Regions from separate parts of the Homo sapiens genome. Here region 1 is linked to region 2. Evidence: fine-mapped expression QTL. A gene starts in region 2. The other region holds a variant in brackets. All regions are shown on one strand. Distances are between the middles of the regions. Region 1 holds the start of LOC105374325 (a long non-coding RNA gene). Region 2 holds the start of KLHL29 (kelch like family member 29).

What was found.
Region 1: its variant is fine-mapped to the expression of KLHL29 in whole blood (TOPMed, PIP above 0.99).

Annotation. Positions count from the first base shown.
Region 1 is chr2:23,526,469-23,542,017 of GRCh38, forward strand. All of the region lies in intron 2 of KLHL29 (kelch like family member 29), which reads left to right. It overlaps LOC105374325 (a long non-coding RNA gene), which reads right to left and starts at 3,840. Exons shown (of 2, transcript XR_939831.2): 1 at 1-3,840. RefSeq lists enhancers at 6,526-6,585, 9,449-10,324. The variant T/C (reference allele first, on the strand shown) is at 6,568.
Region 2 is chr2:23,377,012-23,392,560 of GRCh38, forward strand. KLHL29 (kelch like family member 29) reads left to right here and starts at 8,168. Exons shown (of 14, transcript NM_052920.2): 1 at 8,168-8,769. It overlaps LINC02923 (long intergenic non-protein coding RNA 2923), which reads right to left and starts at 10,307. Exons shown (of 6, transcript NR_187213.1): 1 at 4,210-10,307. RefSeq lists enhancers at 3,564-3,783, 6,107-6,401 and silencers at 6,107-6,401, 7,905-8,254, 8,425-9,284, 9,525-9,644, 9,665-9,834 and 1 more.

The DNA of each region.
Region 1 (15,549 bases), 150 kb after region 2:
GAGAGCCTGAGACGCCCTGAATTCCAGGTGAGGTGTCTGGACGAGATCCAGCAGATGGTGGGAAAAACCACTGAAGGTTGGAGGGGAGAGAGAGGAGCCTAGTGGGCTGGTGGCCTGCTCTGCCCTCTGCCTACCAGAGTGACCTGGCCTCCTCATGGTCATAGAGCAGCAGCAGCCGTGGGTCCAGAGCAGCACCTTTGTGGCCTGCCCTCCACACCCAGCTCACAAGTCTCTAGCGTGGGGTGAGCTGGGGTTGGCTCCGTGGCTCCCAAGAGCCCATTGTTAACGTCTCTTCCCAGCTCCTCATTAGGAGACAGCACCTTGGTAGCTCGAAACGGCCACAGTGGGAATATTTATACAACAGAAACTGATGAACGCTGCATGCACATCAGGGTCTGGGTGGGTTTTTTTTGTCCACCACCACCAGCAGAGCCGGGTGTTAAACATTTACCAGTATAGCTCTGGGTAACAGGGAGCCCCCGCAGGGTTTCGTGCTCGGGGTTAGCATGGTGGGCTGAGCAGTGACCACACGGGGCTGGTATCCTGCGTTGGTGGACATGTGTTGTGTCACTTCCCTGCTAGGAAGCTAGGATGGGGAGTGGGGATGGAGCCTCAACCAGGAGAACTGGGCGACGGTGGCCATGTTGGCCCATTCTGAAACCAGGCTCCTTAACATGGGCTCCCAGACCCTAGACACGGCTCACACGGAGGACACGTGTGTTTCCTGCCTCTGCTTCATCACCTGAGCAGGCCCTGCCCAGCTACACTGGACCTCTTTCCAGTCCTTAAATGCGACCTGCTTCTTCTCCCCTTTAGAGCCAGCACGTGCTTGCCCCTCCCTCAGAATCACGCCCCCCAGCCACCCCAGGGTGGGGGCTGGGCAGCATTAGTATACCACACTGTGTCTGCAGGGCCCTCGTGGGTGTTGCCCAGCAAAAGCCCCGCCATGCTGTCTGCAGCATCCCTTCTGCCTGCTCAGAGACTGTGGAGCCCAGAGCAGGGAAGGACTGCCCTTTCCTGGGGTGGGTGGAGAGGCTTGCCTGCTTAGAAAGCTGTGAGCAGAACTTAGAGGCTGTGAGCAGAACTTAGAGGCTGTTCATCTCCGGGCACAGAGCTAGAGCCTTTCTCAGCGAAGAGTCGGCTTGGTCTTGACAGCACGGTGAAAGCAGTAGGATTGGTTCAGTGTTCTCGAGTTCCAAAACACGCAGCCCACGAAATTGTCCAACAACCTCGCCACATGGGTTGTGCTCTCATTTCAGAGGTGAGGAAACTGAGGGCCAGGTGGTTAGCTTACACCCCAAGCCTCCATAGGAGCAACTGGTAGTCCCCAGGCCTTGATCTTGATTCCTGGAGCCCTAAACCCCGAGTCAGCTTTCTGCATTGAAGGTTTTGGACCATTCATCCCAACCAAACGTAGACATCAGGAGCAGCCCAGGCTCTGCCAGGAGATCAAGGTGCAAGGCCCCCAGGCTACTGCAGACCCCATCACCACCACCCCTCTGGGACCTGCCTCTAAAATGGGAGTTAATGGCGGCTGTGAATACACTGTTGCATTTGTTGCTCTTTTGGGAAAAGAAAAACCTGGCTTCTAAGAGCTGTTGTATTTTATTTTTCTGTAAAGAAGAAATTAATTTTAGTCTTTCTTTTTGGTTTAAAATGTTGTTCTTTGCTTTTTCTGCCCTACAATTTAAAAGGAAACATTTGTCTGTTGAGAAAAGAAATGGTAATTATAGACTAAAAATTGTTTCTATTCTGATTTGAAAAAGTGACAAAAAAAAATTCCATCGCACAGATGGGGCTCTGCTGACGGAGGGTGTTTAACAATGAAGCCCTGGGCCGGTTTGGGGCTCGGAATGGCTGGAGGTGGGTGTGGGATTGGGTGTTGTGGGGCGAGGGGCTGTTTCCGAGGCTGGTCTCCATTTCCGATGCTGGTTAGTCACTAGTTCCTGCACTCTCCGTGTGGTTCAACAGTGGGAGGAAGAAGACGTGACTGGAGATGTCACCTGTGGACCCTGCAGCCCTTATAAGGTGGGCTGTACAGGACGAGGCCACGCGCTCCCTTGCATGGACCCTGAGCCCAGAGAGCCTCCAGGCTTTATTCCCTTAGCCCAGAATTTCACTTTTCAGCCTCCCAAAATTACAATTGCTCCAAGTCCTTTGATCAATAAAGCAGGAAACTGATTAGACTGTGAAATTAAACTAATAATGTCACGCTGTTAACCCTCAATCAATGGGGACTGAGCTCAAAGTGAAGGCTACTTCCTAGATCCATATTACCCTTTGGACACACGTATTTACTTTTTTAAAGAAATCCTAGGGGCGCACACATCCCCAGACCGCCTTTCTTTCCTGCCAGCGCAGCCTGACTCGCAGTGCTATCTCTGCGGCCACCCTGGCGGTGCTGCCGTGTGTGTGGTGTGGAAGGCCAAGATAGAACCGAGTCTGCAAGTTGGCTGGGGTAGGGGTGCCCCTTGGGCCTTGGGAGTGGGACTCAGAACTTCTGCTGAAAGTGTGATCCTCATGGCCCCCAGCCCACCCTTAAGCCTCTTGTCACTAGAAACCTCTCTTTGGGGATGATGCTGAGCCACCCTCTAACCATACGTAGGGCCGAAGTATATAGTACTGGCTGAAAAGCCCCTTTTTACTAATTTTTTTTAGAGACAAGTTCTTGCTCTGTCACGCAGGCTGCAGTGTGCAGTGGCACGATCATAGCTCACTGAGGCCTAGAACTCCTGAGATCAAGGGATCTTACAGCCTCAGCCTCCCAAGTAGCTGGGACTACAGATGCACACCACCACACCTGGCTAATTTTTTTCCCCATTTTCTGTAGAGATGGGGGTCTTGCTATGTTGCCCAGGCTGGTCTTGAACTCCTGGCCTAAAGCAATCCTCCCGCCTCAGCCTCCCAAGGCACTGGGATTGCAGGCATGAGCCCCTGCAGCTGGCTAAGAGCTCCATTTTAAAATGGATATTGGGTTCACTCCACCACTATGCATGCTGCAGTATGGGGTTTGCTGAGACCTTTGTGTGTTCAGTCTCATGAGAGAGAGCAGGGGTCATGGTTTTTCTTATTTTGCTTCTCCCTTCCCCCCACCTCAGCCCCTGTTGCCCACCCGCCCCCACCAAAGCACAGGCTTGGTATAGACCTGGCTGATTGGAGGTGATGAGCATACCGAAGAGGCGAGTGAGGGCAGGTGTGAGGGCTGTTTTCAAGGGCTGGTTTGGGGAGTAGAGTATAATAGGTCTAGTACAGAAACAGGACCTAGCTTAGACCAGCCTCCACCTGCGGGCTGGCTCTGGGGTTCATGGAGGCAGGGCTGAGCCCGCCACCCGTCCTGAGACAGCCTGGGGGGCCGCATTTGCAGACTGAGCTCTGGTCGCAGCATGACAAAGGCTTGCCCGTTGCAGTATCGAGGACTGAGTCTCAGGTGTGCCCATGTCCTGAGAGGCCACGGCTTGTCACTCACCAAAGTGGTGAGCATGGATCAAGCTAGGTGTCAAACACAGCCATCAGGACCGGCTCAGCTGCGGCACTTCAGTCCGGCTCTTTCCATGTGCTCTTCAATATGTGGCTTCAGTTCTGCAGGGCTGGAAGGGCAGTTGCTATTACCCCCATTTAAGGGATAAATAAATTGAGGCTGGGTGGTTGAGGGGTGTACACAGTCACACTGCCAAAGAGGCAGGGCTGGCTCTAGTACTGTGGCGTAGAGCCCTCTGGGTGCCTGAGTTCTCTCCAGGAGGCTGTTCTGGAATCAGCGAAGTCTTTATCCTCTTCTGGCCTTGCCATTGAAGAGGAGGAGCTCGTAAGCCCTTTCCATGGGCCCTCCCACGGCTTGTCCTCCCAACCTGTCAGTTCCATCACGCTGGAATGTTGCCAAGGATCAGACCCCCTCTCTAAAAGTGGTGATGGTATTTAATAACTAATTACTCTAATGATCCTGCAGAAATGCTGGAGACCTGTTTTAGGAGAGATGTCAATTAGAGCCATCTGCACGGTGAATAAAGGAGCCCTCCCCCAGCTGTACTGTTGAAACATGTTAGCGTTTTCCTACCAGCGGCCATATGGTACTTAACGAAAGTGAATTGTTCACACTGCACAACCCGCGCCTCCTGATGAATACTAGCATTTTGTTTTGGAAAATAGTTCTTCCATCGTGTGGAATATTTTTCAATGCAGTAAGTAGCAAGTTGGAAGCCAGCAAGCCCTTGAATGCAAAAAGACTCCCATCACCTCAAGATGCTCTTCCCTCCATCCCAGCCCATCCCCTGCCCCCGCCCAGCTGCCAAGCCCAGCTCCACCCCAGCTCCCACATCCCTCCTGGGCCCAGTTCTTAGCATCTGCTTCTGAATCTGCTCAGGAGAGTGGAGGCCACCAAGGGTTCTTGCCCCATCCCACCAGCTTTGTGTCTGTATGAACTTAGAAATGGAAAACCTGAAGCCATACACAGAGCACAGAGCTCTGTCTGGAAGGATGCAGACATGGGCAGAGTCTCCCCAGAGTTGAAAAGTAGGGTGGGGTGTTTAACTGGGTGTGTGGCCTCACAGAAGGGTTCGTTTTCTATCTGTAGGATGTTTGTTTTAAGAAGTGCAAAGTTCAGGTTGACACCTGGATGCACAGTGAGGTAGAGGGGGTAAGCTGGGACTGTATCTGGGACTCGGCAGAAGCCTGGCTGAGAAGCCTGTCTCCTCCTCGTCACCTGTACAGACAAGTTTCAAATAAATAGTGAGCGAAAGTCATTGCCACGTGGTGGCCAGACAGCTGGGACCAGGGTGCAGCCACCCTGTGGGTTCCATTAACCAAAAACAGGCATGTTGGGTTCTTGTTGCCTGGGACGTTTCAAAAGCAGACCACTGCCAACATGGGACCTATTTGGGGGGTGAGGCTCAGTTTTGTGATGCTCAAGGGAGAAGAACAGGCGACCGTCCCCATCAGTTCCATCCCCCACCCACCCACTACCAGATTGCTCTGGCAAGGGGACCCTCCGCCTCCCTCGTGGGGCTCTGTGGCCTCAGTGAGCTGAGACCCTGCCTCCGAGCCGCCAGGACGGAGCTGCTTTATTGCAGTCTGCCCTGGGACCAACGGGATTTCACTTGCCAGTAATATCTATTCCGGAACTTTCCCTAGAACCAGAGTCACTTATTAAAGCTTAATAAAAGGCCAGATTGACTGCAGTTAGTGACAGAGAAGACCTGCCGCAAGTCCTGGTACCCAAGACGCTCTTCACAAAACCGTGGGCCCATAAATCTCACTTATTTCCAATTCCGCAGCAACTGATCCCAAGTTACAATAATGATCCTAGGTTCAGCTGAACATGTCCTTAAAGGAAATCCTTCTGGGTGAAAAATAGCAGAAATGTGCTCCCATCTGTTCCTCATCAGCAGACTGCACTATACTATTTGCTTTCCACGTCTGTGCCCTGGATACTTTCTCACCCTCTTTGACACCTGGGACCATAGAGATGTGAACCTGAAAGAACCAAGTCGCCACGACTCCCAAGTGCCACCTCAGTAAGGGACCTCAACGGGACGACCAAGGCCCAGTGGAAGCCTCGACGGCCCTTGACCATGGAAGCTGCCCAGAGCATCTCAAATAAGTCAGCAGCCTTTCCACTGGGCCTATTCCACAACGACCCCCCACAGACCAGAACCCGCTCCACTGGGGCCATGCCTGGGAGTTACTCCAAAGAGTTAACCTTTCCTGGTGGGAGAGGGGTGGAGGGGAAGGCTGAGGCCATTTGACATGTGCTGCCTGGTCTGAACATGATGCTGTGCTCAGACACTGAATTTGATGAAGTGCATTGTAAAATTTAAAAACAAATTTAAAACTCTATTAACTCCCTGTAATGGCCTCCTCCTGCAGTACATAGACAACACCGGCTCACTGGCAAGGAGAAAAAGTACTCTGGTTTGCAGTGTGCTTGGCTTGAAGCAGAATGGAGACGGTGGGAGCTGGTGAAGGGAATGGGGAGCCCACGCACCCTCTGCACCCAGGGCAGCACCCAGGGCGGCACCCAGGCCCCTGCTAGTGGAGCTTTGTGGGATGTGCATCGCCAAGGTTAGACTTTTTCTTGCTCCTATGTTAAAATCTCACTTTCACTTTCCTTTGAAGCTAAAACACTTCCTTCAAGAATGCACCACTGGAGTGACAAGATTGTAAGATTATCTTAACTTGGGACTGAGGCCTGGGCGGTGGGGAGCTCACTAGAGGCCTGTGGTTTGGGGTCAGCATGGGGGTGGGTGTCAGGTGGGAGGAGGTGTGTTCCCAGCCTCACCCACTACACCCTCTGCACGGGGAGAAGGATCAGGGCAGGGAGACTGTTCGCCACAGGCCTCTGCAAATCGAGGCGCGTTCAGGGTAAGGGGAGGATTGGCCCGGCTCCAGGCTACCAACTGGAGAGAGACGAACTTTTGTTGAGAAGGGAGACAGCCCCACAGCTGTGTGTGCACGTGGGCCGAGAGGAGGAGCTCAGCTGGCGGTGAGAAAGCCTGGGGGCCGAGGGGAGGGTTCCCTCTACGTCTCTGCAACTCACAGGCCCCCAAGCTGAGGAGCAGAAGGTGCTGCCTGGCC[T/C]GGTCTTTGACGAGTTCAAGGGATTTTCTGCCAACCAGTGGCTTCCCTGTGTGAGAGCGTCTCTCAGTTTTTCCTGAGCACGTAAAGTGGTTTGGAGATATTGGGGGAGGAAAAGGTGTACACATACGGCAGGCCTGGGGGTCAAAGGCAGCAGAGAAACCATGCGTATGTGTGAGTGTGTGCAGATCTGTGTGTGCACAAGTAAGCAGTGCCTTCTGATGTGGCTGCTTGTGGGCTAGTCCTAGGGCATGGGTTTGATGCGGACTCTTGCATCCAGGGAAGTATTTTTCTGAGAGTTCCCCCACCCTCTGGGGCTGGCATTCTACCCCCTTTGGAAAGAAAGCTGGGATGGTCTAAGCAGGGAGGGGTCCTGTGGAGACTTGTAGCTCCTGGCCCAGCAGGATTCATGGCATTTGGCGTCAGAGAAAACGTGAGCCTCTGCCGGGAGTGAAGCAGCTGATGCAAAACAAGGAGCCCTGGGTCGTAGATGCAGCTCTGTGCAGCCTCTGGGGAGCCTTGGCGCTGGCTCGCAGATCAAAGCTGGGAGACCTGGGAGCTCCCTGAAAGCTCCTTCCCTGGCAGCTGCAGATGGGGTGCGGCGTTTGGGCTGGGTGATGGCATTTGTAACAGTGTGAGGACCCCCCACTCTCCCGGGACTAACAGTGTAAATAAGAATTGGGGCATTTACGCCAATGAAGAGAACAGAATTTCCTTGTGCTGACAATCTAGAAGATCCGCTTGTGGACAGTTGAAATGCTAATTATAAGCTAACTCTGTTTTCAACCTTTGTGAACCCGGTTTGGGCTATTTTGTATCAATAAGACTGCTTTCAGAAAAAACAAATTTACTAATTAACTCCCTTTATTTTAAATACATGAGACTTTCCTATGGTGTCTGTTGTTTTTTTTTTTTTAAAGAAACGTGTGCGCTATGAGGTGTTTCCACAGCTCTTTTTGGGGTATGTAATAGTCCTCCTGATATTTTAATTGATATTTGAACCAAGTAAGGACCCGCCAATAGTTGAAAGTCCCCGGTTTCGGGGATGCCTTTCCAAGCAACCAGGGATTCCTGTCTGACATCCCGCTGAGCAGCACCCATTTTATCGTGTTTCTTCCCACAGCACAGGAAACAGGACAACCGGGGCTTCAGATCATGAGACCTGGTGTTGAATCCAGGTACAATGCTTTGTGAACCTGGGAAGTCACTTGGCCACATTGCAGTTAGTATGACTTACCTTGTAGGGTCCTTCTCATCATTGTTATTTTTATTAGATAAAATCACATTTGTGCAACACCTAGCCCAATGCCTGTTCCTTAACAGGCATTTAATAAGTGATGGTTATTATGTCTCAATGCCTTTGTTGACACATTATGTCTTCCCAGCGTGGAATTTTCCTCTCTTTATTGTTTTCTATTGAAATCCTTTGCGTCCTTTCAGAGGCTACTATGAATGCCCCCACCTCCGAGAAGCCTTCCTGTTTGGCCTTAGCCAGAATGACTTATTTCTTTGCAGCATCACAGATGCTAACTTCTGTTCCAGCCCAAGTTCCCGTCTTCCTTCTCTTCTGCTCAGTGTCTCTCCAGCTACACTGAGCTGCCCCTTTCCTGCCACAGCAGGGCCCAGCTCTGTGTATGGCACAGAGGCTCATAGAGTGGATGTGTTTTGAGTTGTTGAGTGAAGCTGAGGTCCCACAGTCTCTTTGAGGCTCCAGTGCTTCAAAACTTCCCTTGACAGACTACTGTGGGTGACTAGTCAACTGCAGAATTAGAAAGAAAAAACAGTGCCTTTTCTGGTCACTTAGAGCTGAGGGCATCTTGGATTTCACAGCCTAGAACCCCCTGCAGGCTTTTTGGATCCCCTAATCCTGTTGATGCTGCAGCAGTATCGACTGGCCCTAAAAGCAGCTGCTAAAATGCGTCTGGCACAAAGGAACTTTCTGGGCTGATGGAAATGGTCTGTATCATGATTGGGGTGGTGGTTAGGCAGGTGCATGCATTTGTCAAAACTCATCAGACTGTGCACTTAAGATTTGGACAGTTACTTTATGGACATTATATCTCCATAAAATTAGTTAATTTTTTTAAAATGTGGCCTGACCAGACAGGCTGGATACAGGGGCCTGTTGTGGTCTTCCTGTGGCCTTGGGAAATGCAGCTCATGCCAGCATGGCACAGGATTGCTCTGGGAGGAAAAGAGACAGAACAGTCTCTGCATTTGTGGAACTTAACCCTTTAAGTCCTGAGCTAGGACTCCACACACAGGTGCCTCGCCACCCTCTCCCAGGAGACCTCACCCTGGCCTGCCTCCAAAGAATCAGAGCCAAGCCTCACACGGCCACAGGCTGAGGCCTGCCTCTCACAGGAGAAGAGAAGATTAAAATTAATGTAAAATCTAACAGATATTTGTATACCCATGTTAATAGCAGCATTATTCACAATAGCCAAAAGGTAGAAGCAACTCAGGTGTCCATTAATTAATGAATGGATACACAAAATGTGTTGTATACATACAATTGAATATTATCTAGCCTTAAAAAGAAAGGGAATGCTATAGTCATGGATACCTACTACAACATAGATGAACCTTGAAGACATTATGCTAAATGAGATGAGCCAGACAAAGGAAAGGATAAATATGGTATGAGTCCACTTATACGAGGTACCTAGAGCAAATTCATAGAGACGGAAAGTAGAACGGTGGGTGCCAGGGTTTCGGGGAGGCGGGAAAGGGGAGTTATTGTTTTTAGTGGGCAGAGTTTCAGTTTGGAAAGATGAAACATTTTGGAGGTGGATCGTGGTGATAGTTACACAACATTGAGAATGTACTTAATGCCATTGAAGTGTACACATAAAATGGCTAAAATGGTCGGTTTTAGGTTTTGTATATTTGATTACAATAAAAAGAATAAAGAAGAGCAACGAAAGAATCCCAGGCCTAAGGCAGCCTCCTGGCCCCCTTAAATTTCAACATTTTAAATGTTATCATTCAGGGGACTGCTTAGCAGAGGATGTGGTTTCTGGTCTGAGAATCAAAATGTGGGAAACAGAAGCCCTCTCTGACTGCCAGGCCCTTTCAGAGCGACAGGTATCCTTCCTAAATGCCAGGTCCTTTTGTCAAGACAAAGGTGGGTGACCACATATCGCGCCACTGGTTTAACTTGATTTTCCCATCTGACTCTCTCGGGCAACGTGTATCCTGAAGCTGATGATGGAGGGGTGAATTTTACTTTATCGCCCCAGCAACTCCCAGCATCATGATTGGGGTGACCCCATCCTCAAGACCCAAGGGGCTCCAAGCTGCGGAAATTAGAGTACGCTGTGTGGACGGCAGCTTGGCTGTCAGAGCGGGTTGGCTCCTGGCCTGTAATTCAGAATGATACCCGGGTACTTGTCGCAGCAGGGGGCTGGTGCCGGCCTGAGCAGGCCTGCCGTGGAGAGTTTAAAGGAGGCTGACTCTCCCCGTTTTGCCTCAGGGACCATTTTTGATTTGTTCTTTGAATGGCAGAAGGCCTGGCCCATCAAACTCACAGGCAACCCTTCCCATGCTCAGAGGAGAGAGAGCTCGGCACAGCAGCCTGTGAAGGGGGCTGCCAACCTTTTCGTTTATAAAATACTGCTGGATTCTTGAGTCCTGATCTCTCTCCGTGAAGGTTTGCTGCAGTCAGGCCGTTAGGAGGACAAAGAAAGAATCTATTGGAAGGGCCCGAGCCTGTGCTGTGAAAAGAAGCTCTGTACTGTTTATGTTCTGGTTGATGTAGATAAGTAGGTACCATGCCTATAGTAAAGGAAAGAGAGTGACATTCTGAGACAAACTTCTGGTTCCCTTCCTACTAACGAAATAGCGAAAGACAGATCTCACACACACACACACACACACACACACACTCTCTCTCTCCCTCTCTCGCTCTCTCTCTCTCCCTCTCTCGCTCTCTCTCCTTCAGGTGTGGTGTAAAGGGCTGTTCTGGACCTGCTGGCATCCCCATTTTGTCCGTTACGTCCCTGTTCTTGGCAGAAACTTGAGGTGCACATGCTACTCTGGTCCCACGCCACCTTGCCCCTGGATGCCACTTTCTTGCAGTCTGACTTTCTGTCTCTGAATTTGCATTTGTCCTGAGTTCCCTTTCAGTCACTGGTTGCTCTCGGGCTCTGTCGGCTAATTCAGTTGGTGGGTGCCACTGCCACCACCCTTCATGGGCAGTGCTGCCGCTTCTGTGCCCCTGGCTACCCTCTGAACACTCTGTTGCCTCAGTGGGAGGGGTCTGCTTCCCCCTTTTGCCTTCTCCATCATACTACAGTGCAGGGAAGGGCATTGAAAGTCCTTTAGGAAGGACGAGTAACTTCTAGTTGAGTTTGAGCTGCCGATTCCTGCGGTGGGCAGAAACTACACACACACACACACACACACACACACACACACACACACACACACACAGGCACGCACACGCTTCTCCAGCAGATCGGGAGGAGGCATCCTGTGTAACCACTCATGCCCAATATTATGTCAGGTGCATTAGTGCTTAGAATGCAGAGTTGTTATAACCATACAAGATACTAGGATTCATCTGTTGGCAGAATTTGGAGCACAGAACTGCAGGGACTAAAGGAAGTAGGAGGCCCCATCTGGGTATTTGGGAAGGGATGGTTCATCGCTCTTTGCTGAGATGTGGGGCATCTGGAGCTTGGCCACCTGCAAGAAGCTGCATGTCGGGTGGGAAACTGGAGAGGCAGGGCTCAGGGCAGCTGGCACCACCAAGTCTACTTAGGGATGGAAGGCTGGGTTCTCAAGGAGCTCATTGGATCCTGGTTTGACACTTTGGGCTGTTAGAGGCTTTGGAATGTGTCCAAAGGGTGGCAGGATTCATGCCACAGCCTTCATGACAGTAGGAAATACTTCCAAAACCCCATGATGATTTATGTGTGAGGAAAAAGGAGGCTCTGGTCTGTAAAGGAAAGTTGCTCCAGAAGCACTGAGGGTACCTACAGATCTCACTTTGAGAATTAGAACGAGGGTGGATCACTGAGCCCGTTTGGCTGGACCCCAGTTAGTATTTGGGAAAACAGACCAGAAGGAGCAAGGACTTACTCAAATTCATACCACCAATAAGTAGCAGAACTAGGATGGATCTCGGGTTTCTCTTGACTCGTAGTCCAGGATTCCTTTGGCCACAGAAATAGAATTATGAACCAAGTAAGGCAGCCCTTCTCAATGGATTCTGCATTTCTAAAAGCTCTCAAGTGATGCTGGACCTAAGGACCACACTTTGAGAAACAAAGATGCCTGACGTCAGTTTCACTTTTAAGGAAGCCAGATGGCATGGGTGCAAAGCTGGAATTCCTAATTCTCCCTCCTATCTGTTTGGCTCCATTCTTATTCTGTTTTATCTTTATCAAGATGTCTAAAAGCTTTTGGCCTAGACCCTCAACAAGGAGATTATCTGTCATCCTTTGTCAGCTCCTTGCTACCCAGATCCCAGCCTCTCTCTGCCATACAGGAAGCTAAAATCGTGACTGAAACGTCCATTCCAAACACTCAGAAGAGTGTGCCTGTGGCTTTGTGGGGGTGAATGTGAGAATGATCTTTGGTTGTGGGGAGGGACACACTGTGGAATATGTCACTCTGTTAGCTGTCTGGGCTGCACATTTGTGACAGTGTAACAATTTGTGCCATTGATCTATTTCAGAATAAGAGGTTCTGAGTGGCAAGATTGTCAGGGCCTTTGCTTGTTCCACCAGTTCTCACTGATCTGGAAACCTTTCCTAGAGATTTGGAGCCTAGATTGAGAGAAAGAACAGAAGGCATCTCTGAGTGACTGACAAAACAAATAGGCATCACCAAATGTGTGCACACAAAATCTCGTTCTTTCTTCATCATCAATCCCTCCGGCTTTAATTCAGAATTGTTCTTTAAAAAATACAAATTGACTATAAGATTGATTAGATGCATTCCAAATTCAGAGCAAATTCTGCAAACTCCTGATCTGGCAAGGATGAAGAGAAGGGCTGGGAAAGATCGTACCAGCAAGAAAATTTTGCTAGAAGCTAATCAGAGGTGAAGCAACTGCCAAACTCTAAAATTTTATATCCACGCTTAGAAAGCACGGCAGCCACCCAGGGCTGATGAGTGTAGGGACCCTGGATCCCTGAGTCCTGGGGATCGTACTGGTTCACAGCCCTAGGTGTCTCTGTTACGTTCAATTCTGTTCAGCAGATTGGGAAGTATGCAGTGTACTGCAGAATATTTTATCTTTTAAATGGCTAAAATGTTTTATTCTTGTTTAAGATTGGATGTTGAAAGGAATTGATTTCAGTTATCTCAAAAATATGTCTGTATATAAGAAAAATGAGACAATAATAATCCTAGCAGACTGATGATGCTTTGCTAGCCTTATCCTGCCTCCTTTTTTTTTTTTTTTTTTTTTTTTTTGGAGACAGGGTCTCACTTTGTCACCCAGGCTGGAGTGCAGTGATGTGATCTTGGCTCACTGTAACCTCCGCCTCCCAGGCTCAAGCCGTCCTCCTGCCCCAGCCTTCTGAGTTGCTGGGACTACAGGTGCGCACCATCACACCAGCTGATTTTTGTATTTTTTTTAAGAGATGGGGTCTCACTATGTTGCCTAGGCTGGTCTTGAACTCCTGGGCTCAAGTGACCCCTCTTCCTCAGTCTCCCAAAGTGCTAGGATTGTAGGCATGAGCCACTGCACCTGGCCATTATCCTACCTCCTTCTGACTCCTTCATACATTGTATTTCCTCATTCTCTTTTTCCAGCCACTTCTTGGCAGTCTCCATAGTTTAGCTTAGGTATACTTTTCTCTTTCCACAGTCTGAGCGATTATCCCCTAAACTCCAGTGACTCCAAAAGCTTGTTTCTCTAGGCTCCAACTTCTGTTAAGCAACCTTCGTCCCATCGTTCCACCTCAGACCTCCATCCTCCTCTGTAATCCTCATTTCAGGGAACAGGTGTGCCGCCCACCAGCCCTGTGAGTTGACTCTGGCATCCTCCCACTTTGGAACTTCCTCGTTTCTGGCTCCTAGTTGTTTCCCCTGCCCCATGTTAGACCCTCCTCAGTCCTTGCCTGGGCCATTTGCCTTCATGTCCCCCAGGATCTTCTGTGTCCAGGCTCCCGTCCTGCAATCCCGCCCCCTGGTACCTGCCCAGCCCCCCAGAAGTGGTCACTTTCCCTCACACTTCCTCTGCCGGGGCCGTGGTCCACACCTGCACTGTCCAATACAGTAGCCACTAGCCAGTATTTGTATCAATTACAATTAAATAAAATGTAAACTTCAGTTCCTCGATCATGCTGGCCAATTGTCAAGTGCCAACAGCCCCAGGGGGCTTCTAGCTTCCATATTGGACAACACAGATCATAGAAGCGTTTCCACCATTGCAGAAAATCGTACTGGCTAGTGCTGGTCCACATTGTCCTTTCCTCTTGAGCATCTTTCTTTCCTCTCCTTCTCTCCAAATCCTCCCTCTTTCCCAAAGAGTCACATAGACACATCCTTACATCCCAAACCTCATCTTCAGTAGCGCAGAACTTGGCACTTCTCTGAGGGTACACTGGAACATAGAACTCTTTTGGTTGCAGTAGATGGGAACCCAACTCAAACTAACTGAAGCACAAAAGAAAATGTGTTAACTCTTGTAATGGAGAGGCACAACTCAGGCTTCAGCACAGCCAGATTCAGTCACTCATGTACTGTTGGACCTCGTCCATCCCTCCTCCACTGCCCTCTGTGGCCAGCTTCATGCTCTGTCCTACAGACCGTCCCCTCCCCATGACCAGAGAGGACGGCCAGGAGTAGGCCCTGCTTACATCTTTTCTGGGCATGATCCTGAAGGAAGAGAGACCTTTGTTTTTGGAGTTCATATATCGTATCTATGGGATTTGGGTCTGTTTGGGTCATGGACCCTGATTCAATCCTTATGGCCAGGGGGATAGAACACCCTGATTTGCCTGGCCTGGTCACGTGCTTACCCCAGGGGTGGGGCACAACACCCAGCCATAGCTAATGGGCTCCCTGTGGGAAAGAAAGATCCTACTATCAGATAAAGGAGGGAATGGATCAGACAAAATGCAGATTTCACAACTGAATTCTGTTGGGAACCTTTCTCACTTTCTTCGCTTGACAGGAATCTGGATGCCTGACAAAGTATCTGAACAGATGTTCAACAAATATTTGGTGTGTTAACGGAGGGAGACGTGAATGGATGGATGCATGGGTGGATGCACGGGTAGATGGATGGATGGATGGATAAGTAGATGGACAGAAGATGGGCAGTTATATGCCTAGCTATGGAGAAGGCCAGAGGAGAGAACCGGGCTCCAGAACTCAAGGGGCTTCCTTCCATGCTCATCAGAAGCCTCTGCCTGTCTTATGGTCTCAGATCTTCTTGAGGATTGGTTCAGCCCTGCCAGACCATGGGCTCCTTGAGGGCAGTCCTCAGCCAAATCCATCTCTGCCAGCACTCACAGCCCCAGCACAGTGCTGAGTGCCTGGCCAGGGCTGGCTGGTGGGCTGAAAGTGAGCGGCAGCTCTGTGCATCTCTTTGTTGTAGCTGGAAGGTAAGACAGGAGCTAACCAGCAATGCAGGGTGATCTCATCTGGGTGTCAGAGGCAGCAACCCTTCCCAGATTGCTGGTCTCGGACACAGTGCATTCACCGTTCTTTCTCAAGTCCCTCGCAATCGAAAACAGGATTTTTTAAAGAGCTTTTAAAAAAGCCCAACCCAAAAAACAAAAAAAAAAAAACCATAAAACTGGTGCTCCCAGTGGACAGCAGCAGGGCTGGTGCCTTCTTGTGTGAGATGATTTGTGGATTGAGGCCCCAAGTCCAGATCCTGGGAAACAGTAGGTGTGTCTTCCATCCAGAAGCTCTTGTTTCTGGCAATGGCCGTAGTGGTGCAGCTGCTCAAACTGTCTAGAAAACTGAAGAATTAATCCTGGGAAGTAATTAGCTCTCCTGGGAGGGGTTGGGCTGTGT
Region 2 (15,549 bases):
GTAGAGACTCGAGATGACTGTAGCCTCAGCTGACGTCTGACTGCAACTTTGTGAGAAACACGGAGCCGGGACCACCCAGCCACACTGCTCTTCGATTCCTGACCGTCAGATAGTGTGTGAGGTAATAAATCTTGTTTGTTTTAAGCTGCTAAGTTTTGGGTAAATTTGATAGGCAGCAATAAATGACTAATACAGTTGGGCTTCTTTCATTCATTCTCATCTTATCTTTCAGTCTCCTTTAGGTCAGACTTCAGCAGCATGTAAGATGCAGCCATCATCTAGGAATGCCCGGAGCTTCCCAGAGCAAGGCACTGTTCAACTTCCACTCTGGTTTTGAGACAGATGAAGCTTTAACCTTCATCTAGCCGGACTCCCTCCTACTACGTGTCTGCATGAAAATTATTGCATATTTAAATATGTACATATTTACATATAAAAATATGTAATATTGTTAAATATTACTAAATATTTAAAATAAAAAGAAACAAGAAAAATAGAGTTTTAAGCAGTGTCTGTTGCATAGTAAGTGCTGAACTACTATCTGCTTTTGCTGACATTGTCATCATTCGTACATCATTATTTCATGTACTGTCGCCCCAATTCACCGTTCCATTGCTTTTGAACAACACATATACATCAACTGCCACACGTCAATTTTAATTCCCAGTAAAACTGGCCTTGAGTATAATGATAAGTCACAGCTGTACCCTTTTAAAATCTCAAATTCAGTTTAATTGAATTTACCTGTAGACTGCCAGGCACAGTGTCTCAGACCTGTAATCCCAGAACTTTGGGAGGCCGAGGCAGGTGGATCACTTAAGACCAGGAGTTCGAGACTAGCCTGGCCAACATAGAGAAACCCTGTCTGTACTAAAAATTAGCTGGGTGTGGTGGCACACTCCTATAATCCCAGCTACTCGGAAGGATGAGTCACAAGAATTGCTTGTACCCAGAAGCAGAGTTTGCAGTGAGCCAAGATCGTACCACTGCACTCCAGGCTGGGCACAGAGTGAGACTGTGTCTCAAAAAAAAAAAAAAAAAAAAAGATTTTACCTGTAGACTGGTATAGAAATATCTTAGATTTCAAATCTTGTTCTGACTCTTTCCTAAAGCTGCCTATTCTCCTATTTAAATTCTGAGTGTATCTAGTGAAATTTTACATTAGCCAGAACTCTCTAATTTTGAAGTTGTCCTGAAGCCATATCGACATTATTGAGGGTTTAGACTTTAACTAAAAAATACTCATTGCATTCTAGGAAAATTCACAGCCACCTAAAGGAGATGTGTCTGATTCGCAATCATTTTCCTGAATCTGCAATAAATGAATCTACAAAGGATTGAAATTTTTTTAACGAAAATTGTCTGGTAAATATTTTTAAGGGTTTGAGAGCAGTGAAAAATGTTAACAGGCCTACAGCGTTATACTTTTCCACAGTTAGCATTTGTTTCCAAAAGTCTAGAGGAGAAACCTTTTATCTCAACAATACTACATTCTTCCATTTGTAATAGTCTCTGATTTTTAAGTAGTTACTATTCAAACCATTTTATAACCTGATAGAAATGTTCCTTCCTTTCTACAGTCAGGTAACCCGGCATATTTGCACTATTTTCCTTAGAGCCTAATTGTGGCAAACCATTCATCATGAGTGCCTGAGGCCTCTACCTCATCACCTATCCTGTTTCATTCCTAAAAGCCTTCTTTTGCCCCGTGTTTTAACCTGTGAGTTAACCTGTGAGTTGCTCAAGGCCTCTTGGAAGTAGCTGGGTGATACATCTTAAATAAATGAAAATAAATTAGTGTGTTTCTGACCAGTTGGATGTGAACTGAATTTCCAGTAAATCAGCCACAGATTAAGTATCTAAGGGAATAGGTTCACTCAAGGGAAGCCCATGAATCCTTTTGTGATGCAAACTAGAAAATCCTTCTGCTTTACAATTTTGAATTTTCATATATCATATTTTCTTACAGTAAGGTGCACCTGGACCAGATGGTGGCTTGTATCACAGACTTTAGGCTATTTTTAAGACCCTCGGTAAATATTCAGCAGGTACCCTGGTGAAATCATCCCTTCCTTGTCACCCTCTGTTCCCTGGGCATGAAGCCTCAGCAATGCTGTTAACATTCATGTTTCCACTGGGTGTGGTCTCATAAATGTTTCCTCCTGGACCCCTCAGCACAGAAAGTGTGTGCAGCTTCACAGATTCTGGTAGGGGTGAACATGAAGAGGAGATACAGATTTACATAGTCCAGAGGACCCAAAATAGCTGAAACCACTAGATACTTCACACTGCAAACCGAGGTTAATCTCAGACTCTGAGGCTGCATGAAACTTGACCCCCAACACTTCCATCTCCAGGGAGAATAGAGAATGTGTGTCTTGGAAGACAGGCTGTCATTTGCTTGTGACCGTGACAGGCTACTTCAGCTGTGGGGCGGGGGGGGGGGGGGGGGGGGGTACGGTGATTACCAGTAACACCTGAGACAGAGCCCTGGACCCAGGCGTGTTCAATAAATAGCTGATGAAAATGAGATTCACTGCCAAGTCACCACGAGGTCATCCTGTCTCCTCCTGCTGTGCTCCCCCTGTAGCCCATGTGGACTGGGTCCCCTCTCAGGCTGCCTGGGTCCCAGCAGAGGGCAGAGGACAGTGGAGGGTCCCTGTCCTGGGGACGGTCAAGGCAGAGCAGTCACCACCTGTGCTGGGTGAGTGGTCACTGGCCTTCCTCTGGCCCAACTGGGGGCTCCAAAATGACCATAATTACAAACCTGATACTGGCCCTACGTCCTACCAAAAACCCAGAGGGAGATGGAAACAGTGGCACTGATGGATTCTAGAGTTGAACAGGAGGTAGGTGGGACCTTTACCTCTTTTTTCTTAAAAACAGCTTAAAAATACATTTATGCCAAGAGCTATCAGGGCTCAATCCTCTCTCAAAAGTCTCCTGAATTTTGGCCGGGCATGGTGGCTCAGGCCTGTAATTCCAGCACTTTGGGAGGCAGAGGCAGGCAGAACACTTGAGGTCAGGAGTTCAAGACCAGCCTGGCCAACATGGTGAAACCTCATCTCTACTAAAAATAAAAATAAAAATTCGCCAGCGTGGTGGCACACACCTGTAGTCTCAGCTACATCGGAGGCTGAGGCAGGAGAAATCTCTTGAACTGGAAGGTAGAGGTTGTAGTGAGCCAAGATCATGCCATTGCACTCCAGCCTGGGTGATAGAGTGAGACTCTGTCTCAAAAAAAAAAAGTCTCCTGAATTTTATCATTAGTGAACATGCTTCAGTGAGTGAAAAAACACTCTAAAATTCAAACTAAATTTTCCTTGCAATCTATCCTAACAATCGTCTGGGTCTTATTTTTAATAATCTGTCATAGAGAAACACCGGCCCCTTCTTTAACATTGAAAAAGGAAAGTGACATTTTGATCACTGTCAACAATTTAACAACCAATAACTATATACTGAGCAACTCTTCAGTCCATTCCTCCGGACACCATGGATGAAGAATCCCATTACCAATGGAGAGAGCGGAAGCTGCTCTCTTAAACGCCCAAGCAGTGTCTCATGTCAGTTTGGGAATCAGAGCCACCCAGGAAAATTGTTAGTGGCTCTGTCTAATTAGCACTCCTGCCACCTGCAAACAAGTGGTACTAAAAAAAGGTGCTGAATTCTTGCCATTGAGAATGCCAAAAAAAGACACCACTGGTTTCATTCTGACTCTTAGAATCTAATATTTCACTGATTTGGCGGGCTGGGGGTGGTGGGAGGAGGGGGGAAGGAAATACACTTTCACTTTCACCCAAAGGAAATGACTTAACAACAAGTCGTGTTTTAGAAACGATCATATGGTAATGAGTCCTCCAATCCAGCAATCCTCCCTCCCCTGACCTCCTGGCCCCTGCCTTCCCCTCTGCCTGGTCTAGGCTCCCTCTGCCTCCCACAGAAACTGCCTTGTCAGGTCCAGTCTTAGACCTTCCTCCTCCAGGAAGGCATCCTGACCAGCCTAGCTCTTAGGGAATCGTCCCCTTAACCCCACAACACTTGAGAGTCTCTTCCCCACAGGTGAGCACGAAGTTATATTTCTTGATAACAACTGCTGTTATCTTAACCCTTGTCAAGAACAAGAGCCAAGTATTGTATTAGGAAACCTCGATCACTTTTTGGAAAATAGGCAGGGTAAAAATGATTGGCGTATAAGCCGCCTTATACCTTCCCTGTCTTCCTGAGAGTCGCCAGCACAGAGTTGAGCAACAAAGCAGGTTCTCAGTAAATGGTTGATTGCATGATTGGCAAATGCCTTTGTGACACATCACAGAGCACGGTGGCCATGGTGAAAATTTGGCAGCTGTGACTCCTTACTTCCTGCTTTAATCAACGTCATGGGATTGAAATGCTGGACACACAGTAGGTGCTAAATAGATTTTTATGGATTGATTAACCACTGGAGGGACTGTGCCTTATGTGGGATTTATTAATGCTTTTGATGCCAAATAGGGGTGGTTTTAATAGAGTATAATGTGTTTAAAAAAAAAAAAAAAGAAAAACCAGCAAACACAAAACCCCAACCAGGACAGAGGCTGGCAGCTGCTCTGTTTACACCCACCGTGCTCCTGGAAACAGATGTCCTGTCAAACCCGAAGGTTTCTGATGAGGCTTCCACTCTTCCGAGTGACCTGAGTGTTCAGTAATCAAAGGGACCTGTGCCCTTCTACATTAGTGCTCTCTGTTCTATGACTGATCTCCAGTTATGTGTCTGGGGTAAAGACTTTTGCTGATGAAGGCAAAAATCAGCATCTACTGTATCTACTCCAAGGGAAAAGCACTGGGCTAATGACAAAAGAAACTGCATTTGTGTGTTTGGTGGGGTAAAAAGAACAGAGGCTTTGGGACAATCAGGCTGAAATTCCAGCACTGTCACTTACTGTGTGATTGCAGGTTCTCATCTACCCTCTCTGGAACTCAGTTTTGGGGGCTGATAACACCAATTCCACAGGTTGCTGTGAGGATTAACAAGATATCATGGGTAGAGTTCTTGGTACAGTGCCTGACATATAGTAGCCACTGGGTAAAGGTCCTTTTGTTGTGGCTATTATCATAAACACAGACAAGGACAGAAGTCCACCTTGGCCACTGTGGGTTTATGTGGCACCCCAGGTGTTCCTGATGTGACTTCCTCTGGTTCCTCCTTGGGTGATGGTGGCCTTTCCAGTACAAGTCCTTGTCTGATTGACTGCACAGATAATGGTCTATGATCTGAGCGGGGAATGGATGTCCTGGAGTGTTCCAGTCCACTTCCCTATGCACTATGAGTCCGCTCCTTCACTACCCATCTGCTTGGAGTGTACACATTAGTCCTGATCCCAGTGCCCAGATTGGGGCTCAGGACAGGGAGGGTTGGCTTTTGGAGAACACACCACCAAGTCAATCCTGTGTTTCATGGAGAAATCTTTGACCATGGTGTAAGAGGTTTCTGGGCACAACACACGAGTCCCATGAACCACACAGAGAGATCCATGCCAGTCATGGGGCCCATCCCATGGGCCACAGAGTAGAGCAAAGAATGACCCAAAAAAGATCCCAGACACCAGCAAGATCTACGTAGAGAGAGAGAGAGAGGAGACCCCTGACACAATGCAAATCCAGTTTATGTTGCCAAGACACTAGATGCGCTGGGACAGATCATGTGAACAACAGCACTCTGAAATGGAACTCATATGCAGACCAGCGCAGACCCTTCATAAATGGCTGTGTCCACACTAAACAGCTCCCAGCAGGGCAGAGCATCAATGACGAGGAAGCCTTGGATAAAACGAGGATGGGTGAGGACAGGGTAGACAAGCCCACTGGGAGTCTAATTCACACAGCTTTTCTCATTCTCCCTGACAAGCTGGCTCCCCTGGTGAGCTGTTACCAAACTTCAGCCCTGAAGAGTTTGCGGTGCCCCAGAACCAGCGCCCTTCGCACCACCATGGCCCGAGTAGGTCCTCCTCTGGATAAGACCTCAGCACAGCTCTCTTTTCTGATGCTGCCAGCAGGGAAATTGGGAGCATCCTTTCTCCTTCATCTGGAGAGGTAGCTGAATAAGGATTCTTGGAGTTCCTATTTTCTTCTTTCAACTGAGGATCATTCAAAATCATCTGTAAGACACTGTGAGTGCCTCACATTGCCAGATCTTAACCTATCCCAGACCCTGCAAACCTTGGCCACATTTCTGTAGTGCCTACAGCTGTCACATAGGGCGCTACTCCAGAATACGGCTGGGTGGACTTCTGCATGTTCACAGTCAGTGCATCCATGGAGATTATCTCAGAGGACAGCTTCCTACAGCGTGGATGAACAGACACACGCCTGTGGCTTTGTTCTCCTTCTTTTTGCATTGGGTTGACCTGTGTATCAATTTGAAATCCCAAGAAATCCCTCTTTTTTCCATTTTGCTATCTAGTACTCTTCTATCACTTTTCATATACCATTTGAAGGACATAGTACTCAAACCAAAGCTATCGATCACCTTCAGGTGTTGTCTGAGGACCCTTGGGGAGCTTTTCTCCCCCTCCCCCCCACTCCTGCTCCCCTTTTCGGCACCTCTGTCACCCTCTCTTAAGGTCACGCCAGTTTTCCTGGCTGTCGTCCTCATGAAGGGTGGCTTCCTCCCTGAAGTGCTCCGCTCTGTCCCCTCCCTTGAGTCCCGGGCTTCACACACACAAACTCTGTTGGATGTTTTTTCCAGGAAATGCAGTTATTCTGACACTAGTGGGCCATTTCCCCGGCGTCCTCATTCCATTTCTGACAGTGCTCCTGCTACCCTCAGTAGATTATTATTATTTATTATTTATCAGCCACGACACTGTACTCTGCTTCCTACAAAATATTAAAGAAGACACAATCCGTGCGCTGAGTTTACAGCCAAGGAGAGCAGAGGCCTGGATCAGACATCACAGGGGGGGAGCTGAGAAGAAAATATTTACCGGCTCAGTCCTCCTTGGCCCTGGTAGATGGAGGCAAGGACTGGCAAAGCCCTCCCCAGGCCAGCTCCTCCCAGCTGGGCCCCCACAGCCAGCTCCCCACACTACCTACAGCACCCCAACTCCAATTTCTAGCAAGGCCTCAGGCCTCAGGCCTTTACCCGGGGGAGCGGAGGGAGGGTGGAGGATGAGGATTGGGCCCTCAGGCCTTTACATTCAGACAGGGGTGGAGGAGGAGGGCAGGTACAGATATTTCCTCTGAAACTCAAAACCAGGTAAAGGGGATGTAGGGGAGGAGGGAGAGGTCGGGGAATAAAAACCAGATTAGGAGAGCGGTCGGGGTGGAGAAGACTGTGCCCAGAGTGAAATATTCTAGCATAATGGAAAAGCCCTCATTGGGGGTCCCACACGCCTCTGGCCAAATCTCTTCTATTAGGGTTAGAAGTTAGGGTCTGTGTAGACAGCATGTGTAGACCGAGAGGTGGTGGGACTGAGAAGTCAGTGTAGACAGTGTGAGAGAGAGCGAGCTGTGGTGGGGGTGAGTAGTCGGTATAGACATCAAAGGCTGGTCAGGCTGTTAAACAGAGAAGGCTTCCTGGATTCCTAAGGGTCAGTATGAACAGAAAAGTCGCGCGCCCCAGGAGAGGCAGGGCTGACTCAGAAGGCTGGTGGACACTTTGCAGGGCTCTCCCTGGTCCTTCAGAGGTGTGGACAATTCCTGCTCCTTTCCAAGGCTGGAGTGTCATAAAGAGGGCGGAAGCTGAAAGACGATTGGACTTTTTCCTTCTCAAACTTTTCCGCCAGTTTCCTCAGGTGTTGAGAGCAGACGGGGAGCTCGCCTCAGTCCCGGGCCCCCAACCCTGGGCCAGCAAGGCCAGGAGGCCACGGCGGAGCAGCCCGTGCCACGCGCCGTGCGTCTGCCGGGCGCGGCCGCGGAGCCAGGCGAGCCGGGGGCCACCGCGGGGGGCGGGGGCGGCGGACGGACGGACCGACGGACACACCCGCGAGCACTCCAACCTCGGACCCGGCGCGCGGCAGCCGGGAATCCCTCGGGCCGGGGAAACTGCGCACGGGGCCCGGCCTGGCCGGGCCGGGCCAGAGGGCCCCGCCTCCCCCACCCGCCACCCCCGCCCACTCGGGCGCCCGTGATTGGCTCCGCCCGCCCCTGGCTGCGCGCCGAAGCCCGCCTCCCTCGCAGCTAAAGCAGACGGTACCCGGAGCGGAGCGAGCCAGAAGGGAGCATGGTCCCCGCGCCGCGGCCGCGCCAGCCCCCGCGCCGCCGCCGCCGTCCCCGCCACCGCGGATCTCGCCGCAGCTCCAGCCCCGGCCCCGGCTCCGCAGCGCCCGTCCGCAGCCCCGGCGGTCGCCGCGCTTGAGCGCAGCCCCCGCCCGGAGCCCGAGCCGCGAGCCCGGAGCCAGCCCCAGCCCCGCGGCCGCCGCGGCTGCGGGGAGAGGGCGGGGGCGATGCTGCCGGAGCCGCCGCCGCCGCCGCCGCCTCGATGAGAGCCGCGCCGCACCGCTCATAGCCGCACAGGCTGACAGGCAGGAGGACCGACTTCCCTCTCCCGGGCATCCTCCCTGGGCTGCCGGGAGGCGGCGGCGGCGGAGGAGGAGGAGGAACGAGGGGAGAAGGCGGAGAGCAGGAACGCGAGGAGGAGGACCTGGATCCGTTTCCTCCGGCCAGGACCCGAGCGGCCCCAGCCACCGCTACCCGCCGGCGCTGTCCGCTCTCCATCAGCCCTCCTGCGCCCACCCGCGACCCCGGGCTCTCTGCGCGTCGGGCCGGGGCCGGAGCCGCGCGCCGGAGGTAAGAGCCGGGCCGGGCTGGAGCGCCTCGGATGCGGCGCCGGAGGGAGACCCAGGTCCTGGCCGCCGCGTGGGGCCGGGCCGGGCCGGGCGTGGGAGCGGGGCCGGAACCCGGAACCCTGGGCTCGGCTTCGGCGGCGGCGGCGGCGACAGGAGCCTCCCGCGTCTGGACTCGCAGGCTGCAGGAGCCCTTGCGCCTGCGCTGCTCCAGGGGGAAAAAAAGGGGGGGAAAAAACTTCCTGCCCCCGGGTGTGTATGCACCGGGGCTGCCTGGGGCCACTGTCACGGTGTTCGGAGGTGCTGGAGGCTTGTGTGACCCCTGGCCGGAGCAGCCCCCCTGCTGGGCCCGGCGGCGCGCGCCCCTCTCCAGGCCACGTTCCCCTGAGCGGCCCAGGGCCCCGGCCGGGCAGGAGACCTGGAGGCGACGGAGGGCTGGCCCCCAGGGGCGGCCGCGCGCACTGTCCTTTGGGGAGGTGCGCGCCTCTGTGCAGCGAGAAGCCAGGTTGGGGTTTTCTGCCCCTCGCGTCCTCTGATCTCGCATTTGGGGACTGGGTCTCTTTACTCAATCCCAAGTAACTTTCGAGGTAGATGAGCTCGAAAACCGTCGGGAGGGAACCCGCACAGACCTTATTGTGACCCACCCCACCCCGACACACACACGCACACTTCCCTTGACACCTTGTGGGTGCCAGCGTGTTGTGGGGGGACGCGGAAAGGAGAGCTCACGGGGACGGCGAAGCGGCCAGGAGGTGGTGTCGTTGGGGAGGGGTTGTTGATGTGTGGGACAGGGTGGACCTGGAGATGTGTAGTGTGGGAGTGTGAACGCGCGCCCCGATGGCCTCGGGGGGCCGGGGGAGCCCAGGGCTCGCGTCCCGGTCTCCGTGGCCTGGAGCGGGCTGAGAGCGCTAGGGTTATCTGCGGTCGCCGCGCGGGTGCCCGCGCTGGGCAGCGTCGGCCCCGGGCCCCAAGGGAGGGACGTGCTCGCCTGGGGCCGGAGCGCGGGGCTGGGAGCCGGGGTAGGTCGGAGGTGGCTCTTAGGGCAGGTCGCCTCTGCGTTGCCTGGGGAAGGCGGGGACGCGCTGCCTGCCTGCGGCCAGCCGTCTCGGAGGAGGGGGTGGCGGCCACGCGCGAGTCTCGGATGCCTGGGTCCACCCGCTGAGAAGCCAGTTGTCGTCCCTGGGCTGTGGAACCAAGCGGCAGACGCGGTCCGTTGGCGGGCCCTCGCGCGGGCCCCCAGAGATGCTGATGGGTAAGGAGCTGCCGCCGCCGCCGCTGCCATCCCCGCCGCTCTGCAAACGTTCTCCTCCCTCCCTCCCGTGCTTGCGCCGCGGCGCGCCCCGGGCGAATCGTGGACGCAGGTATTTATGTAGCATTAGGCGAGACCTCGGCGCTGGAGGGACCAGACCGTGGAGGACGCCGAGCTGCTGCTGCCTGCGAAACTTCCACTTCGGCAGCTCAGCGGCATCCCGGCCCGCTGCTGCAGGTTCCAGCCTCTCTCCAGTCCAGCAACGCTGGGATTCGGACTCCTCTTGCAATGACAGATCTGTCCTGGTTACGGCTGTATTTATACTAGTTTCAGTCTCTTTAAAGTCATCTGTCTAGTCACTACAGAGTTTCTTCCTCGCCGTGTGGTCTTATCACTAACTCAGCCCTGGGAGGGCAGATTTGAGGAATTGCTTCATTTTCAGATGAATGACAGCAGACTTGTCCCACCTCATTCCTGATTTATTATTATTATTATTATTATTATTATTATTATTATTATTATGGAAAGAAGGTATAGAGCTTTTTAATTTTTTTGTGAGGGAGGAGAATGAACAATTTTATAGATTGTTCTTTCCGACACTTAGAGAAAACATGTCCAGTAAGCACTAGTGAATACTTTAAAGGCTGGTTGGCATGCGTGTATTTGATTAGTCCATAATCTAGGTGTTTATACAGGTATGGAGCTGTGTGCTACTGATGAATAGTCTCCGTCCCATACATTGTGCTGGAGTGCACTTGATTTATCACCCTGCTATAAATCAGGGAATTACTAGCACATGTGCCTTTTAAACTCTATATGAATTTAATGGCATTTAAATTGGTTTATGGGCTGATGCATCTAACCAATTTTAATAACTTTTCTGCACAAACATCTTATAAACCATATTTGCCTGTGATTAAGAAAAACATTTTCTTCTCCTCGGTCTCTCGGTTATGGAAATTTATAGGTCTCCAACTTTCATTTGCAAGCAGCAATCCAAACGAAATACCTAGAGTTTTACTGAAATAAAATATCCTATGGTAGCCATGGTAACAAATAGATTAAGGGTTATTGGTTTTCATCTGAATGTGATGGGGGGTGGGGATCTAGTGTTGTGTCTTTTTAATTATGTTTCTAATGAGTGGTGGTCATACTTCAAGTACTCAGTGTGGGAGACAAGCAAGACTGAGAATTCAGGTTTGTGGGAGGTTTATTGAAACAAAGACTAGTAGAGCCCAGGAGAATGACTTTTGCTAACTGCAGCTCCTCATATCTAGGAACAAAATGGATAAAAACCTTTTTTTTGTTTTTCCAGTAGATGAGCATTGAGTCAGTCACTTTAAGACCGGAAAATGCATTTTGCTTATAAACTATTACCAAAGGAACCTCTAAATCCAGCCTGTTTTCTAGGAATAAACATGTTGGAAGTGTGGCGGTTGGTGTGGATTGAGTGTCACCGTTGTTATCAACACCTGTCAGTTTAAGTGAGGCACATCATTAGTCTATTCAAATCTTGCCTATTTCAGTATTCATGCATTTCCATGGTGATCCATTCATTTTTATTTAGTCAACCTTATAAATCTTTGGCATCAATTTTAGTTGTGCCATCTTTTTCCTTCTTTTATCAATTGATTTGGCTACAAACCATTCCTAGTTTAAAGTATCTCCTTCTTTTTTCCTGCTAGTTTCTAAAAGCCTACACTATTCCCAGCTACATACAGATATAAAGGAGTTAATTTTTTTTCATCAACTCAAATGGCACCCCTAATACTAATGTCATTTTTTGGCATCTCATTTGATATGTATGTGTACATGGGTTTTTTTTTTCTTTCTTTCAGCAGGCTTACTGTAAAGCTTTCTCACTTTTTGGCTGGGAGACATCAATTCAGTCCAGCAGAACTAACTAAAGTTTTTCCTTCCTTCCTCCTTTTTGCTTCCTTCCTTTTTTTCTTTCTTTCTTCTTCTTTTTTTTTTTTTTTTTTTTAAAATCCCAGTACTGTTATGGCTTAGGCATTCTTTGTGTCATCGGTTGTATCTGGCTTGGAGAGACTTCGAGACTATATTAGAGCAGGTCTGTCCTGGGGTCTTTTCTAGTAGTGGTCAAAGCCAGAAGTTTTCAGAACAGCAGAGGATTTTCCAAATACAATATATATTTAGTCACAGCATATAGTGCCCCTAGGATCATAGTAACATTGTAAGTCCACTGAACAGGCAGTTTTACTTAAATGCGAGTGATGATTTTGCTCACCCACTTTCAACTTAGCTTTCTAATGATGCAATCCCATGCTAATCACAACCCTGTATATTTCAGAAATATCAAGGCAAGCATTAGCACGCTACTGACTTATTAGGATCAGGCAAAGTAATTGGAACACTTAAGTTCAAAGTCAGATGAAGAAATGGAATTATAACCAACTTTGTGATTCTGTAATCAGTCAACTAAGTGCCTACTTGGGGATAGGAGGAGGAAGAAACATCATGAATAAGAAATCCAGCCTTTAGTTGTGCTGAATGAGGATAAACCAAGGCAGTTACTGTGTAAGAGGACTGGAGAACAAGAAATGTGTTAGTGGATGGGAGGACTGCTGGAGCCCAGGAAGTTGAGGCTGCAGTGAACAGTGATCACGCCACTGTACTGGGCAACAGAGCAAGACCTAGTCTCAGAAAAAAAAAAGGGGGGGGCGGAATATATGTTTAAACAGATAAATCATATGTTTCCCAGGCCTGTCTTAGCATCTTTCACTGTGCTAGACACATATCCACGCAAATGTTTGGAAGCTGGTAGAATATCTGTAGTTTGTGTAGAAGATAGTCAGTTTTTATTTCTTAAGTAATCTGGGGTCATCGCCTGATGTGCTAAAAAATTAGGTAGCATAATTCCTGGAATGTACTTTTGTCTGAAGTAAATTTTACCATAGAAAATGGTCTTAATTTTGGTTAACAAGGAAAGATGTATCCAAATTCTTTACCTGCACCTTAGATCAAAAATGCTGAGATCAGGACCACCCTGAAAGCAAACTCTGTGGTTCTTCCTACAACCGCCACAGGCTTACTTCTCCCACAGTAAATGCAGCCTGTACTTTCTTCAAGGAAACCACTTGAAAACAGGAAAACTGAAACTGCCAATTAAGATGAGGCAAGTTGATCACTGGAAGTAGCAACAGAGTTCTTTGTGAAATCAATTTTATCGTTTGGGAGCATTTCCACCTTTAGGGTAGAAAGGAGAAGAGTTCTCATTTTCTGTGCGAGAGGGTATCTGCATGAAATTCAAGTAGTTCAGAGACTCTCGACTGTGCAGCTGCAAATGATGACTCACAAGCTGGAACAAGAACGGCGAGCATGGTTGTAACGGCCGGGGATCTAGCGTGCGCAAAGACGACAGCCGCTAGGCCATTTACAGGCTGCCATTGGCCTCACAGGTGTCTATTGTTATGATTTGTAGGTTTTTGACATTTTAAAATCACTGATCATTTTAAGGATATATGTATGTGTATATATATATTTGTAAACAGATAATCACACATATATATACACATACATATATATAGTTATATATACACAAATATATGTTCTGTCACTTTGTTTAAACCATGGTTTAAAAACACATAAAATTTACCATCTTTACTTTTTTTTTTTTTTTTTTTGAGAAGGAGTTTCACTCTGTCACTCAGGCTGGAGTGCAATGACACAATCTTGGCTCGCTGCAACCCCTGCCTCCTGGGTTCATGAGATTCTCCTGCCTCAGCCTCCAGAGTAGCTGGGATTACAGGCGCCTGCCACCACGCCCAGCAAATTTTTTTGCATTTTTAGTAGAGACGGGGTTTCACCATGTTGGCCAGGCTGGTCTCGAACTCCTGACCTCAGGTGATCCACCCGCCTCAGCTTCCCAAAGTGCTGGGATTACAGGCATGAGCCACCTTTACCATTTTTAACTGTGCATTCGTAGCATTCACATTGTTGTGCAAGCAAGCTCCAGAACCCTTCGTCTTGCAGAACTGAAAGTCTATACCCGTTAAACATCATGTCCCCATTCCTACCTCCCTCAGCCCCTGGCATCCGCCATTCTACTTCCTGTTTATACATTCAACTACCTTAGATCCCTCAGGTGAGTGGAATCATGCCACATTCATCCTTTTGTGATGGGCTTGTTAAACTTAGCATAACGTCTTCCAGGTTTATCACATCTTGTGGCATGGGACAGGCTTTCCTTCCTTTTTAAGGTTGAATAATATTGCATTGCATGTATGGGCCACATTTTGTTTGTCCATTCATCTGTTGATGGAGATTTGGGTTGCTTCCATGTTGTAGCTACTGAGAATAACGCTGCTGTGAACAGGAGTATAAGACATCCTGTTTTCAGTGTTTCTGGGTCTATACCCAGAAGTGGAATTGCTGCTATTTTGATGTTTTCTTTGTTTTGAGACGGGGTTTTGATCTTGTTGCCCAGGCTGGAGTGCAATGGTGCAGTCTTGGCTCACTGCCACCTCTGCCTCCCGCGTTCAAGGGTTCAAGCAATTATCCTGCCTCAGCCTCCTGAGTAGCTGGGATTACAGGCACGTGCCACTATACCCGGCTGATTTTGTATTTTTAGTGGAGATGGGGTTTCTCCATGTTGGTCAGGCTGGTCTCGAACTCCCAACCTCAGGTAATTCGCCTGTCTCTGCCTCCCAAAGTTCACTCTGGGATTATAGGCATTAGCCACCGCGCCCAGCCCTATTTTGACTTTTAACACTAACAAATTATGTAAGTTTTCAATTGAAGAGACTTGGTGAGAATGCAGTCACACAGAATACTGTCCAATAAAGAATGCAGTAGATGTTACTGACATTTGTTCTTCCTTTTCTGTGTATGCATTTCCTCCCGAGTGTCTCTGATCTCATGCTTTCCTTGGGGGCTTGTCCTAGTTGCAGTGATACTGCAGAGGGATTAGAAACATGGGCTTCCTGTCCACGTTGAAGTCCCGTCTCCAGTGCTTCCTAGCTGTGTGACCTTGGAAAGATCCTTAATCTCACCCAGCCTCAGTTTTCTTTTATGAAATTGGAAGAAGCAGTAGTGGCTATCTAGGGTGGTTGTGAGGGTGAAAACAGATAACCTCCATAAACCCACATTACAGTGGCCTGGGGAAGTGCTTTGCAAAGGGGGCTTAGGAAAAGTAGCTGTGGAAGAAGAGACAGCAGCAACCCCTAGAGATCTCAGAAACTGTAGATGCCAATCCTGTTCAATTTCAATCATAAATGTTTTAGTCATACACCAGGGCATGTATATATATTATGTTCTGTAAGTCTCACTATCAGTACTTATTCTGAAAAGCATAAGACATTTGCATCACAATTCCAATAGTTAAAAATACCCTTGAGTTGATTTGATGTGTGAACTTTTAATTCCATCTTTAGTATCATAATTTTAGAGTTGATGTGGATTTTTGAGGTCAGCTAATCTACCTATTATTCAATCACCAAACCTTTATTAAGCCCCAATAATATAATAATAATAGCTTCCAGTTATGGCTGCTCACTATATCCGAGTACTTTACAT